4 linked regions of the Homo sapiens genome follow. The protein of the gene in region 4 purifies or fractionates together with the protein of the main gene of each other region. This does not show direct contact. Each region holds a gene or a part of one and is shown on either strand. Other genes may lie near its edges.

Region 1 (3,500 bases), about 73 Mb from region 4:
TAAAATCTTTAAACTTGAGATCAAAGAATAATTCAGATTCTTTCTATAAATCCTAAAATTCACCTCTTAAAAAGATTAAGAATGCTAAAACTCTGACCAGTAGACTCATAATGCCTTTTTTTTTTTTTTTTTTTTTGAGACAGAGTCCCCATTCTCAAAATTAAGAACATTTGTGTATGGAGTATTTAGGGGTAAAGTAAAAGGACTTTGTGCTTTACATGTTTATGAAAGATGCAGAGTATTAAAAATAGATAATAGAAGTAGCCTTTTTTTTTTTTTTTTTTTTTTTTGAGACCGAGTCTCGCTCTGTCACCCAGGCTGGAGTGCAGTGGCATGATCTCGGCTCACTACAACCTCCACCTCCCGGGTTCAAGCGATTCTCCTGCCTCAGCCTCCCGAGTAGCTGTGATTACAGGCTCCCGCCACCACACCCAGCTAATTTTATGGGTTTCAGTGTGTTGGCCAGGCTGGTCTCGAACTCCTGACCTCATGATCCGCCTGCCTCAGCCTCCCAAAGTGCTGAGATTACAAGCGTGAGCCACCGCGCCCCGCCAGAAGTAGTTTTTTTGTTTGTTTGTTTGTTTGTTTGTTTGGAGACGGAGTCTCGCTCTGTTGCCCAGGCTGGAGTGCAGTGATGCGATCTCAGCTCAAGGCAACCTCTGCCTCCCGAGTTCAAGCGATTCTCCTGTCCCAGCCTCCCAAGTGGCTGGGATTACAGGTGCACGCCACCACGCCCAGCCAATTTTTTTTGTATTTTTAGTAGAGACAGGGTTTCAGCATATTGGCCAGGATGGGCTCTATCCTTTGGCTCCATGATCCTCCCACCTCAGCCTCCCAAAGTGCTGGGATAACAGGCGTGAGCCACCGCGTGGCCAGAAGTAGTCTTAAATGGCTAAATTTTGGTTGTTGCCTCTTTCTGCCTATTTTTAAAACTTAATGTAAAGTTACAAACAAGATCAAAAATTTTCAGATTTGTTTTGAAATAAGTTATCACAATGAAATCAAACGATATTTTAAAAGAAGAAAAACTATTACTATTTTTTAGAGTAGAATTGGCATTTTGTGTCATCGTGGGCTTACAATAAAATATTGGCAATCATTTACTCTAGTGATAACTGCTTCTGTTATTTCCAGACAGATGTTATTATATTTTTAAAATTACTAATATTTTATGCATTAAAGGCTAATATAAGATAAAATGCTAATGTCATACAAATTTAGCTCTTTCAACCCCACAGTTTTTGTTTTCATTTTATTGTGTAACTGTAAGTTTCTCAAACACATTTTGGGCCTGATAATGCTTTGCTGTGGGGGGCTACATTGTACATTGCAGGATGTTTAGCAGCATCTCTGGCTGCTACCCCACAAGATTTCAGTAGCAGCCTCCAGTTGGGAAACCAAACATGTCTCCAGACATTGCCAAGTGTCCCCTGTGGGGCAAAACTAAGTCCATTTGAGAATCACTGCCATAGTGTATTTACAAAAATTCTTATCATGCTTTTCAGGAACAAAATTAGGAAAAAAGCAACATACCATTACTAGCTAGGCACACAATCTGCCGAACAAAAAACTGCTGGGCAGTCATTGTGAATAGTTCAGCATAAATAAAAAGGTCAGACTACATTTCTTAATCAAAGACTACATTATCTAGGTAATTGGTACAGAACAGACCACTAGAAACATTTTAGTGAGTGGCACACAGGGAAATTAAATTGGTTAATAGCTACAGATGTAATTTATGGCTCTTTCTTCAATCATTATTTTTAAATGTGAGGCTGCAGGATCTGCAGATATTAAAGGACGCATGAAGGTCCTTTTACTACTTTGTGTTACCCCCAAATCACAGCAATTCTCAATGGCATGCTGAAAGAAAAAGGTGTCTCACTCCTTTTATCATTTTGTCTACAACAGGTGATGCCCAGTGCCCTGCTGGGAACATCATCAATCTAACTTCCTCTCAAAAATGTTTGGCATTCTTTGTCATGACAAGTAGGCATCGGGCAGTCCAGTTCATAGGGTTTTTCTCCATTTAAACATATGCCAGAGGAAGTAGAAAAACGTAGCTATTTGATAGGTAGAGAAAAGAAAAATATTTAAATATTGTCACAGAACCATTATCACACCTTAAAAAACTAAAATAATCCTTTACTATCATCAAGTATACTGTCATTCTTAAAATTTTCAATTGTCTTATAAATGTCATTTTTTACAGGTTTTCATTTGAATCAGGACTCAAAAAAGATACATGTGTTGTAATTATTTGATATATTTCTCTCTTTTTTTGCAACAGGGTCTCTCTGTGTCACCCAGGCTGTAGTGCAGTGGTGCGATCTTGGCTCACTGCAACCTCTGCCTCCCAGGCTCAAGCAATCCTCTCACCCTAGCCTCCCAAATAGCTGGGACTACAGGCATGAGCCACTATGCTTGGCTAATTTTTATTTTTATTTTTATTTTTTGAGATGGAGTCTTGCTCTGTCACCCAGGTTGGAATGCAGTGGCACAATCTCGGCTCACTGCAACCTCCGCCCCCCAGGTTCAAGCAGTTTTCCTGCCTCAGCCTCCTGAGTAGCTGGGATTACAGGTGCATGCCACCACACTCGGCTAATTTTTGTTTGTTTGTTTGTTTGTTTGTTTGTTTGTTTTTGAGACAGAGTCTCGCTGTCGCCCAGGCTGGAGTGCAGTGGTGCGATCTCGGCTCACTGCAGGCTCCGCCCCCCGGGGTTCACGCTATTCTCCTGCCTCAGACTCCCGAGTAGCTGGGACTACAGGCCCCCGCCACCTCGCCCGGCTAATTTTTTGTATTTTTAGTAGAGATGGGGTTTCACCGTGTTAGCCAGGATGGTCTCGATCTCCTGACCTCGTGATCCGCCCACCTCGGCCTCCCAAAGTGCTGGGATTACAGGTGTGAGCCACTGCGCCTGGCCTAATTTTTGTATTTTTAGTATAGGCGGGGTTTTACCATGTTGGCCAGGCTGGTCTTGAACTCCTCACCTCAAGTTGTTCGCCTGTCTTGGCCTCCCGAAGTTCTGGGATTACAGGCGTGAGCTCCTGGCTGGCCTTGGCTAATTTTTAAATTTTTTCATAGAGACAATGTCTCACTATATTGTCCAGACTGATCTCAAATTCCTATACTTAAGTGATTCTCCTACCTCAGCCTCCGAAAGTGCTGGGATTACAGATCTAGCCTAATATATATCTTAAATGATTTTTAATCTTTAAGTTTCCCCTTGCCTTTTTTTCCCTTCTTGTAATTTATTTGTTGAAGAAACTGGATTGTTTGTATTGCAGTGTTTCCCACAGCCTGGAGTTTGCTGATTATATCCTTATAGTGTCACTTACTTAAGTGTCACTTGTGTTTCTCTGTCTCATGTATTTCCTGTAAACTGGTAGCTGGAGCTAAAAGGCTTGATCAGATTCAGATTCAGTTTTCTTTTTGGCAAGTCCGAAAAGAAGATGATAGCCACTGACAGTATTGTTGGCTTCTTGCCCAGTGACTTGCA
Region 2 (3,500 bases), 1.4 Mb from region 4:
GAGTAGGCAGCTCTTGGCATTTTGAAAATAATGAAGTCTATATAAGACCACTTACAAAAGAGACAATGAACTGGATAGGGACCAAAGGATTTCCTTCACATATACGGGCACAATGCAGTTTACACTCAATAAAACATCAAAAGAGGACAGACATGAGTTGTCCTTTGCAAACAGCAGTGGCTCTTAGCCTTCTCTGGGATGTGGGTTCTTGGAAATCGGATGCAAGTTACAAACCCTCGCCCCAAGCAGGGCTGGGGAGGAATGCACATAGAAGGATGCATCGAAGATTCTGCACACAGACCTCAGAAGCCCACTAAAGGCCGGTGGTGGTGATGGCTCCCGAGATCCCTGATGCTAAAGGCTTCTGAGTTGGTTAAATACCTAATGCTCCCTGTAAAACCATATACACGCCTTCAACTTTCTGCCTGTTTTTCAACTCTCCCAGCCCTTGCTTCCTTCCTTCATCTGGCCTTGGACAGAGTGAGGCTGAAAAAGCCCCCGGCCTAGCATCCGCGGACGAACTCGCCCAGGCAGGCCCCTGCGGCCTCTCCGGCAAGGACCCTCCCGCCTCGCCACCTCCCCGGCCCCCAGACAGCGACACTGCTCGCCCTGCCTGGAGGCTCCCGCTCAGTCCCCTCGGAGGAGGGGAGGCAGACGCAGTCTCACGGTTTTCTTGGCGGGCTCCTTTTTCCTCTTCTTCTCCGAGTTGCTGTGGTAGGGCAGGTCGCGGCCGCGGTAGGACGGGCCGCGGGTCAGCTCCAGCTCGCTGTAGGGCGGCAGCGCGTCGTCGGACGCGTCCTCCTGGTCGTCCTGCGACGAGCCGGCCTTGTAGGTGCCGGGCGGCGACCAAGCGTAGTAGGAGGCGCTGCGCGGGCCGAGCTGCGCGCTCCGCTTGGATGGCGTCTCCAGGCTGCCACCGCGGCTGGCGCCCTCGGGCCGCGCCTGGCGCTCCCGCGCGCTGCCCAGGTACGAGTGGTCGTATTTGGGTGCGGTGCCTGGCGTGCGGCTCACCAGCCGCGGCAGGTGCGCGTCCTCGGCGGGTCTGCGGCGCGCGGGGCTGAAGGCCCAGCCGCGGTCAGCATCGGTCAGGGGCTCGCGGCTGCGGCTGCGCTGACCGTAGTACTCCTCCAAGGAGTCGTCCTGGTAGAAGCCGCTGTGCGCCCGCGACTCCGAGCGCTCGAAGCGGCTCCCGCCCCGCGCCTCGTGACTGTTGCCGTCTGCCCGGCGGGGCCGCTGGCCGTAGGAGTCAGCGAAGGCCGCCAGCTCGTCCATGGAAACGGCCGGCACCCCCGTGGCGAAGTTCTTCCGCGACAGCATCTCCGACTTGGAGCGCGGCTGGCTGCGGGCAGAGAAGGAGGGGGTCAGACGGCCGGTCCCTCCCTGGAGCTCCAGGTAGGGCTCCCAAGAGCACCCATCGTGTCCTGGGGCCACGCTCAGGAGACCTCGGCCTGAGCCTCAGCTCCGCTCCAGGCTGGATGAAGCATTCCAGGCTCCTCTCACACCCCAGAACGTCAAGTAGGGGCAACCGAGTCTATTCCACTCGTGTGCCACGCATCAAAATGGGGTTGTGTGGATAGAACATATTCTGTATCCTATGGAATACTGACCCACCGTGGGGCTGCCTTCTGGTCATTATGTTGTGACCTCGGGTTGACAGCCACACGTCTCCACCCTCAAAGCCAGCGCAGGTGTCAGTACACACAGTTATGGTCCCAGGAGTCCCTGTAATGTGTGGTGACACACAGAGAGGCCTTTTCTTCCCTCAGAGCCAAGGGCCAAGTTACCTACTGGGGCAGGAGGGGAGAAGGACACTTGCAATTTGTAAGGGAAAGGCAATGTTCACTGTCTTTTAAGGTAAAGGACAGATGAGTGGTGAAGGTGCTATTTAGGGGGAATAGCAAATCTTAGCCTCCCACAATTGTTGTGGGAGGCCACATCACCTGGGTAAGTGCCTTAGCACCTAGAAGTTTCCATTTTCCCAGCTTAAAATAGGGGCATTAATAGTAGCTGCCCTTTAGAGTTATGAGAATTAAATGTAAGAGAAGTGTTTGGCATTTTACCTTTCATATACTAAATGATCAAAAATGAGGGAGATGGCCAGGCATGATGGCTCATGCCTGTAATCCCAGCACTTTGGGAGGCCAAGGTGGGTGGATCGCTTGAGCTCAGGAGTTCAAGACCAGTCTGTCAACGTGGCAAAACCCTGTCTCTACCGAAAAAAACAAAAAAAAGATGGAGATGATGGGTGGGATTTTGTAGAGGTTATAGGATAAAATATATGAGAAGGGCAGAGATATATTAATGTTCATTAAAGGGTCTAGGGGACCCATTTCAAAGGTCTTGAATAATTACTTCTACACATGTTGTCACAAGTGTTCCCTGTCTTGACAAATGTGAGATGTTCAATATCCTGTAGAAAGAGAGATGTGTCAGGATAACCTGGAATGGGAGACAGAGATGCTACTGGATGGCATCTTCCTTGCCTCCGATCTACCCTGCCTTCCAGCTCCTGCCCCCTCACACCGACCAGACCTGCCCCTCACAGCCATCACCTGTGCCTGAAGCTCTCTCGATCCTCTTTGTTATACTCCATGGCTGAGGGCCCGCGGCTTGCCCCACTGCTGCCTCCCATGACACCTGACCAATAGTCAGGATTGCTCTCCAAGTCCCCAGACACAGGGAACTGCTTGCTTCTCATCTGATGGAAAGACTGGCGGAAATTGCTGTCCTCCTCATGTAGGGAGCTGAGTTCTGAGATGGTGTTGTTATCTGCAGGGACAAAATCAGGCATGATAGAGCTTTTTGTGTTACTCTGTTTTAGACAGGAAGAGAATCCTGTTAAGGGCTGAGACCCTAGGCTCCAGGAAACTCCTGCCTCATTGCTGTCCAGGGTGGGTTGTAAGCCTGAACTAGTGGTGTTTGTATTCTTAGCTCAGCAGGCATTGGCTCCAGTTTGAAGCCTACTTGCTTACAGAGAGGGAGGTTCCTACATGCTCTGTTCTTGGAATAGGAGAACAAGTTTGTTATTGTTGCACCTAAGGCAGGCTTTCCAGAACTCAGGATCTCTGTTGCTGGCCTCCTCCTAGTACATCATCATCCTTGTTCAAATGTTTTCTTCTTCCTTTATAATTCTGTGATGAGCTGTGTTGATCCTAGACATGTTAAGCCAAAAACAGAAAAAGAGAGACAGAAGCCATAGATCACAGCATCTTCCTTACTGCTGGCCCAGTCCTAAGATGGACCTTCAGAGCCAGTACTGCCATATGCTGTAGAGGCACTGCATTCTGGCCTCCTTTGGCTGTGCCCCTCCCCACAGAGCAGGAAGTCCACAGAATAGTTGAATAGTCAAGGGGAAACCTGTACCTAGTATCCATATACCCCCTGACTTAGCCCATGCTCATTTAGGAACCTGGAAGATCCTGCTCAAGTAGCACCAAGCCTACTTCCAGCACTTGGGCAGACCTCTTCCCCTCTCCCAAAAAAGTTTTCCAGGGGTATGT
Region 3 (3,500 bases), on a different chromosome or scaffold from region 4:
TGGCGCCATCTCAGCTCACCACAACCTCTGCCTCCCGGGTTCAAGCGATTCTCCTGCCTCAGTCTCCCAAGTAGCTGGGATTACAGGCATGCGCCACCATGCCTGGCTAATTTTGTATTTTTAGTAGGGATGGCGTTCCTCCCTGTTGGTCAGGCTGGTCTCCAACTCCCGACCTCAGGTGATCTGCCTGCCTCGGCCTCCCAAAGTTCTGGGATTACAGGGGTGAGCCACCACGCCCGACCTTAATTTTTAACTGCGGTAAGATACACATGGCATAAAGTGTATCATCTTAACCCTGTTTAAGGGCACAGTTTAGTGGTCACCTCCCTCTGTCCGCAGAGCTCTCCGCCTTCCCAAACTGAAGCTCTGTCTGCATCAAACGCACACTCCCAGTCCCTTCCCAGCCCGCGGCTCCCTCTACTCTCCTTCCTGTCTCTATGGTTTTGGCGACTCTGGGGACCTCGTGTAAGTGGGTCCTGCAGGATTTGTGCTTTGGTGACGGGCTCGTTTCACTGAGCCTCTTGTCCTGGGGCTCCTCCCTTCTGGGTGGACATCAGATCTCCTTCCTTCTCAGGACACAGTCACTCCGCAGTGTGGATAGGATAGACGCAGCTGCTCTTCCATCCCCCGGCTGTGAACTTAAGGACTGCCCACCCCTGGGCTGTTGTGAACATCGGTGTCTGAGTCTGTGTCTTTTTTTTTTTTTTTTTTTTTTGAGACAGGGTCTCGCTTTCTCACCCAGGCTGGAGTGTAGCGTGGGGTCACAGCTCACTGCAGCTTCAACCTCCCGGGTTCAATCAATCCTCCAGCCTCAGCCTCCCAAGTAGCTGGGACTACAGGCGTGAGTCACCATGTCCAGCTAATTTTTGTATTTTTAGTAGAGATGGGGTTTTGCCATGTTGCCCAGGCTGGTCTCGAACTCCTGAGCTCAAGCAAGCCACCCACCTCAGCCTCCCAAAGAGCTGGGATCACAGGGTGAGCCACCGCACCCAGCTAATTTTTGTATTTTTGTAGAGGCGGGGTTTCCCTATGTTGCCCAGGATGGTCTCAAACTCCTGGGCTCAAGCAATCTGCCCGCCTCAGCCTCCCCGAGTGCTGGGTTTACAGGGTGAGCCACCATGCCCGGCCCGCCTGCGTCTCTTAAAGGCTTCCAGGATGTGGCTGCGTTGGGCTCCTAGGGCCCCGTTCTCCAAACCTGGTTCTCCTTGTGGGTCTGGTCCGGCCGGAACTTCCCACCAATCTGCATTACGGTGGACGGTGGGAAAAATAGGGGCAGTGTCTCTCGCGGTGGGCGCGCTCACCTGGCCTTGTGCGGAGGTGACGATGTTATGAAATGAGATCAGGATAGGAAGGGTTTGTAAAAATATCTTCATTCGGCCAGGCACAGTGGCTCACACCTGTAATCCCAGCACTTTGGGAGGCCAAGGCAGGTAGATCACCTGAGGTCCGGAGTTCAAGACCAGCCTAGTCAACATGGTGAAACCCCGTCTCTACTAAAAATACAAAAATTAGCTGGTCGTGGTGGTGCATGCCTGTAGTCCCAGTTACTCGGGAGGCTGACGCAGGAGAATCACTTGAACCCGGGAGGCAGAGGTTGCAGTGAGCCGAGATCGCGCCACTGCACTCCAGCCTGGGCTACAGAGTAAGACTCCCTCTCAAAAAAAAAAAAAAAATTTCATTCAGCAGAGGAAAGAATCGGCCACCCTGTAGTCCCCTGGTTTTGACATTTATTTGTACCTGCCCATAACACTGAAAAGTCTGGGCAGCGCCTGCCCCCACCTCCGGCCCCTGCAGCCCCTGGTATGTGACCCTGGAGAGGCAGAGCCAGGAGTGGGTGTCGCTGAGCTGGGGGTGATTCTAGAAGACGGGGGTGCCAGGGGGCCAAGGGGATGGCAGGGGAAGGCTGGGGTGGATCCGGAGGCCCTTCCTGTGGGAAGTGGGGTTGAGAGCACCCTGAGCCTGGGTGCCCCGAGGGCACCTCCTCACGCAGCCCCTTCCCCCACAGGGCCGGCTCCCAGGCCTCAGGGTCCGCTGCATCTTCCTGGCCTGGCTGGGCGTCTTTGCAGGCAGCTGGCTGGTGTACGTGCACTACTCGTCCTACTCGGAGCGCTGTCGCGGCCATGTCTGCCAGGTGGTCATTGTAAGTGTTGCTTGTGCGGGCTGGGGACTGGGCCGTGCCCCCTGCTGCCCAAGATGCTGGGGCACCAGGCCCTGGAGACACCTTCCTCCCCAGACCCAGGGCCCACGAGGCACGTGGGTTTCTAGGTGGAATCTGCAAAGCTGCCTCAGGCTGGGTGTGGAGGACAGGGGTCCAGGGGAGGACGGGGGAGACGTGCGGGGCTGCCTCAGGCTGGGTGTGGAGGATGGGGGTCCAGAGGAGGATGGGGGAGACGTGGGGGCTGGGGGCAGAAGGCAGGGCAGACTCCAGAAATCTTTGGGAGGGAGGATGTTTAGCAGGAAGCCTGGGGTGGGCAGCTGGCCTCACTGCTCCGGGATAGAGACCCCCGTGTGGTGTCCTCACTGGATGGGATAGAGACCCCCGTGTGCTGGCCTCACTGGTCCAGGATAGCGACCCCCGTGTGCTGGCCTCACTGGCCTGGGATAGAGACCACCGTGTGCTGGCCTCACTGGTCCAGGATAGAGACCACTGTGTGCTGGCCTCACTGGTCCGGGATAGAGACCCCCGTGTGCTGGCCTCACTGGTCCGGGATAGAGACCCCCGTGTGCTGGCCTTAGTGGCCTCGCTAGCCCCCCTGGGACCAGGGGTCCCCTGAGGCAGGTGGCAGGGCAAGGTCCTCCACAGCCTCCACCTCAGGGAGATAGGGCTAAGTCCCCTGGCGTATGTGAGCATGTGTGTGTCTGGGAGCAAACGTGTCCACATGAGTGCACACCAAGGTGACCCCCTGCCCCTCTCCACACCCTGTGACTAGCTCAGAGGGGAGGTCATCCCAGCTCTGTCTTCCTGGCAAACCCTAGACTCGCCCAGAACTGGGCAGGTCCCCCACTGAATTTTGACCCCAGGCTGCCCGATGACCAGGGTTCCGATGCCTCCACTCCCCTTGGGGTCAGGCCTGGGCATAGAAGGATCTGGCCTGTAGCAGCGGCCACTGTGGGTTGTCATAGGGTGATTGGGTGCAGGGAGACCCCAGGTTCGGTGTCTCCTCCGTCAGATGGGGAGAGCACCTCTCCTGGCAACTGGGTGGTGGATGAAGCTAGCCGGGTGGGCCTGGGCAGGCCTGTGTCCCACAGAGCCATGTCTGACGGGGGCCACATGTGGAAAGGCCCAGATGTGGCAGTGGAGGACTGGGGTGTGGGGTCCGGAGCTAGGAGAGCTTCTGTGCCCAGGACTTGTTTGGAGCCCATGCCAGCCCAGGGGAGGCCTCCGGGCCCCTGGACCAGGCCTTGCTCACCCTTGAAGTCCAGGGGGCCTCTGAGCCCAGCAGGGCCGGAGGGTGGCACATGGGGCTCGTCCTGGGGCCATGGGTGGGGAAGGCTGTGCC
Region 4 (3,500 bases):
TAGCCAGTAGCCTTAGGTGGCTATTTAAATGTATTGAAATAAAATAAAATAAAAATTCAGTTCATTTGTTCTAGCCAAATTTCAAGAGCTCAATGGCCACATGCGGCTAGTGACTACTGTATCCGACACCATATATATAGACTATTTACCCTGTTGCAGAAACTTCTATTGGACAGCATTAGAGCAGACTTTGCGGGTAGAGGGGAATGGGATGTATGAGGCTAGGTTTTGTATGTTTTGGAGCTTAGAGTTTGAGTGAGTTTTCGAGAGCCTCCTGAAAGCCATTCAACCCTGTCCCCTGAGGGAAATCAAATATCCTGGGAAGAACTCAATGACCACTCTCACCTTCAAGTAGCATTAATGACTGGAAAATAACAGTGCTGGCCAGGAATTAGTCCTCCCACTTGCTAACCTGGGCCAGAAAGGAAATGGAATGTGTGGGTCTGTTTTCAGTCTGTATTGGTCAGGGCTCAATAGAGCACCCTAGCAAGGGACACATTACAACACACCTCCATTTCTGCTGTAACTTTCGTGTTTAAAAAAATGACTACATTAACTCTTTGAGAACTGAATACTTTTCAGTACATCTGGTGAGTATGCCATTGGAGAGTTTCTTTTGAATCAGACCTTTGATTATGGTGCCAGATCTCGCCAACTTGAGAAAGTTTTGATATTCTTGTTCAGTGTAGCCTTATGATAAAATAAAATGAATGAAACACTGGGCTTCCTCTACAACCCCTCTATGGGGGAGGTCCTTAGCAAAAATGTGGCACATTTTTTGAAGAAGCGTATGATATTGCCCTCATGTCTTTTCTTTTAAGACCTCTCCACTTCCTTCTTGCACCTCTGTTTCCTTCAAGGTTCTCCACTGCTGCAGAATTAATCTTAGCTAATCAAATTCCCAAGAATTAACTCCTCCTTCTGATATGAGAGCTGATAAAGGCTTAAGGACACTTGTCTTATTCTTCCCAGGAGTTCATGTATTTTTGCAGTTTCTTTTTCAAGATCATAACACATAATTGGGACCCAAAAGGATGAACCTCTAGTGACTAATTTCAGCTTAGTGGTAGGAAGTGGATAGGGACACATTGGGGCAAAAGTATTTATTGCTCAGTTATACCATGTAGGTGAAGTCTTTCTCCTGAGGCTAGAGAAAGTTGCCTACACATCCCTAGAATGTAGTCTACACATCCACACCTGCCTCTGGAAGTGGAGCTTGTCTTTAGGTAGAGCTTTGGTTCTAGGTTCAGGTGACTCAGGAACAGGCACCCTGCTGCTGCTGGTCCAGCCCCAAGTCTCATGGCCCAGGCTGAGACAAAGTCTTGATTTGAGCTTCTGCTTTTGTTCCTTAGGGTCTGAAAACCCATGTTCTTAACTTATCTAATAATACCCAACTTAGTCAGAATGTGACATAGACTTGTCCTGTCCCTCCAGGATTCTCCTTGCCCCATTTTTGTATGGATTAGAGTCTTAGAAGCAGCTACCCACCTTCCCACATTCTATCTATATTCCCGCCTGCATCTCTATAGTCATATTTCTAGACAGGGTGCGTTGTCCTCTAACACCACGTATGCTGAGCCTTCCTGAAGTCCACTGCTTATCTAGGGGAACACTTGACTGCTTTCTGGTATTCTACTCTCTTAGTATCCTGTACCTTTCCTCATCTACCAACCATTTGTTTTTTGATTGCTTATGGTGTGTCAAACTTAAATGCTAATGGTACTTCATAAATGTTCTCATTTCATTTTATGACAGCCCTAGGAATGTTGGTTCTATTATTATCCTTGTATTCAAGATGAGGAAATTAAAGTTCAGAGAGGTTAAGTAACTTATCTTATATCCTGCAGATAGTCAGCATCAGGGCTAGAATTATAACCCGTCAATTTTATTACAGAACCTGAGCTCTTAACACTGGGCTCTGCTGCCTGAGGGTGACTGTCCTTCATCTCTTGGAGGACAAGTGGCTGCCCCAAGTGCCTGTCACCCCAGCAGGCACATGCTGGCCTCGTTTGTCCTGCCCTGTTTTGTTCTGTTATGCACAACTAAACTATGACATAGATATGGCACAGATGACCTAGAGTTACGTAAGTCTCCATATGCAACCTCAGGTTTCTTGGTTAGTTACCTTCATGAGCACTTGTTTGGCACATAGTAGGCACTCAATAAGTATTTAAATAGATAAATGGATGAACTGAATTGTAGCATGGAAGTCCTTTACTTCACTGCATTGCTTTTCAAGGAATATATATGCACTCTCATATTGCCCTTAATATTACACTACAGTGAAAATTTCCCAGGGCTAAGGTTCAGTATTTCCTTGGGCCTAAAATGAGTCTGTTTGTGAAATGGATTCTGTTTTATAAACACCAGATAACTCAGGTTATTTCATAGAAATCTTCCTATCTCCTGAAATGTGGATATATGTAGAGAGATACATGGGCTCCATGCTAGAATATGTCAAAGATCACCATTTTGATAACAAATGTGGTATAAATAGGTGGGCTTAAGTTTGAAACTTCACCAAGAATGTTTGCCAATAGCAAAGATATTTCCACGTAGCAGAGACCATGAACCATCATTTGAGAGTCAAATGAATTAAATACCTTTCCTTACATTGAGGTTTGGCTAGAAGGCAAGAGAAGCAGCTAATGAATTTTACTGTATGTGTGTTCAACTTTATGGGTATGCATGTATCTGTTCATGTATATGAGTGTGAACTTGTACATTTATGTGTGTGTATGTAATATGTGGATGGGTACGTAAGTAGGTATGTATGTATAAATGGTATATACGTGTGGGTATGTAAGTATGTATTTATATATGGTATGAACATATGTATATATGGTATATACAAACCTTTGTGTTTGCATATGTGTGTGTAGGTATTTGTGTTTGCATGTGTGTTTGTGTGCATATTTGTGATTGTATGTGTGTATGGGAAGGAAGAACCAGACTGATTAAGGCCCAAATGAGAGCAAATGCTAAGGTTAGATTCACCCTTTTGGAGTTGGGGTAGACTGGGGTGAAACCTGGGTTTGCAAGGGAAGTACAGGCATATCAATGGATTTATGACGGTTAGTGCTTATTATCCAATGAAAATGATCTCAAGATCATTTCCCAGTTCCAAGCGGCAGCCAGATAGAAAATAAAGCTGAAGTTTAGATGCTGTAGCCATATGTTTATAATATAACTTATATTTATAACTAAACTCACTTACAGGATGATAGTTATGTAATTTGAGGATTTACGAGATAGTATAGTCTTGTGGAAAAAGACCTGCATTTGAAATCAAGGGGTTCAAGTCACTTTCTTGCCATTTATCAGCTGTGTGATTTTGGGCAGGTGAGTCTATTTTCTCATCCAAGGATAGGGTTAAAAATACCAATCCTAGACTCTTCCACAGGCTGAGGGCACAAGTTTAAGTGTTGGTGTGACACTCATGCTAAAGGAAATGAGGTACCATGTGTGGAAAAATGGAGGGAGATGAGCAAATTAGCAGT

The links. The genes of interacting proteins can lie anywhere in the genome.
Region 1: the proteins of LRRC52 (region 4) and DIPK1A purify together in Homo sapiens (affinity purification with mass spectrometry; one large-scale study listed by BioGRID and IntAct). This does not show direct contact.
Region 2: the proteins of LRRC52 (region 4) and ILDR2 purify together in Homo sapiens (co-immunoprecipitation; one large-scale study listed by IntAct). This does not show direct contact.
Region 3: the proteins of LRRC52 (region 4) and DIPK1B purify together in Homo sapiens (affinity purification with mass spectrometry; one large-scale study listed by BioGRID and IntAct). This does not show direct contact.

What each region holds. Positions count from the first base shown.
Region 1 is NC_000001.11:92,877,963-92,881,462, reverse strand, and holds part of DIPK1A (divergent protein kinase domain 1A), read left to right. Parts: intron 1-3,500.
Region 2 is NC_000001.11:166,920,041-166,923,540, forward strand, and holds part of ILDR2 (immunoglobulin-like domain-containing receptor 2 isoform 1 precursor), read right to left. Parts: intron 3,153-3,500; coding exon of another isoform or gene 3,151-3,152; exon of another isoform or gene 3,061-3,150; intron 2,770-3,060; coding exon 2,553-2,769; intron 2,411-2,552; coding exon of another isoform or gene 2,332-2,410; exon of another isoform or gene 2,191-2,331; intron 1,340-2,190; coding exon 667-1,339; coding exon of another isoform or gene 628-666; exon of another isoform or gene 1-627. UniProt on the Homo sapiens protein: May be involved in ER stress pathways with effects on lipid homeostasis and insulin secretion. With ILDR1 and LSR, involved in the maintain of the epithelial barrier function through the recruitment of MARVELD2/tricellulin to tricellular tight junctions.
Region 3 is NC_000009.12:136,715,572-136,719,071, forward strand, and holds part of DIPK1B (divergent protein kinase domain 1B), read left to right. Parts: intron 1-1,710; exon of another isoform or gene 1,711-2,005; coding exon 2,006-2,140; exon of another isoform or gene 2,141-3,500.
Region 4 is NC_000001.11:165,547,000-165,550,499, reverse strand, and holds part of LRRC52 (leucine-rich repeat-containing protein 52 precursor), read right to left. Parts: intron 1-3,500. UniProt on the Homo sapiens protein: Auxiliary protein of the large-conductance, voltage and calcium-activated potassium channel (BK alpha).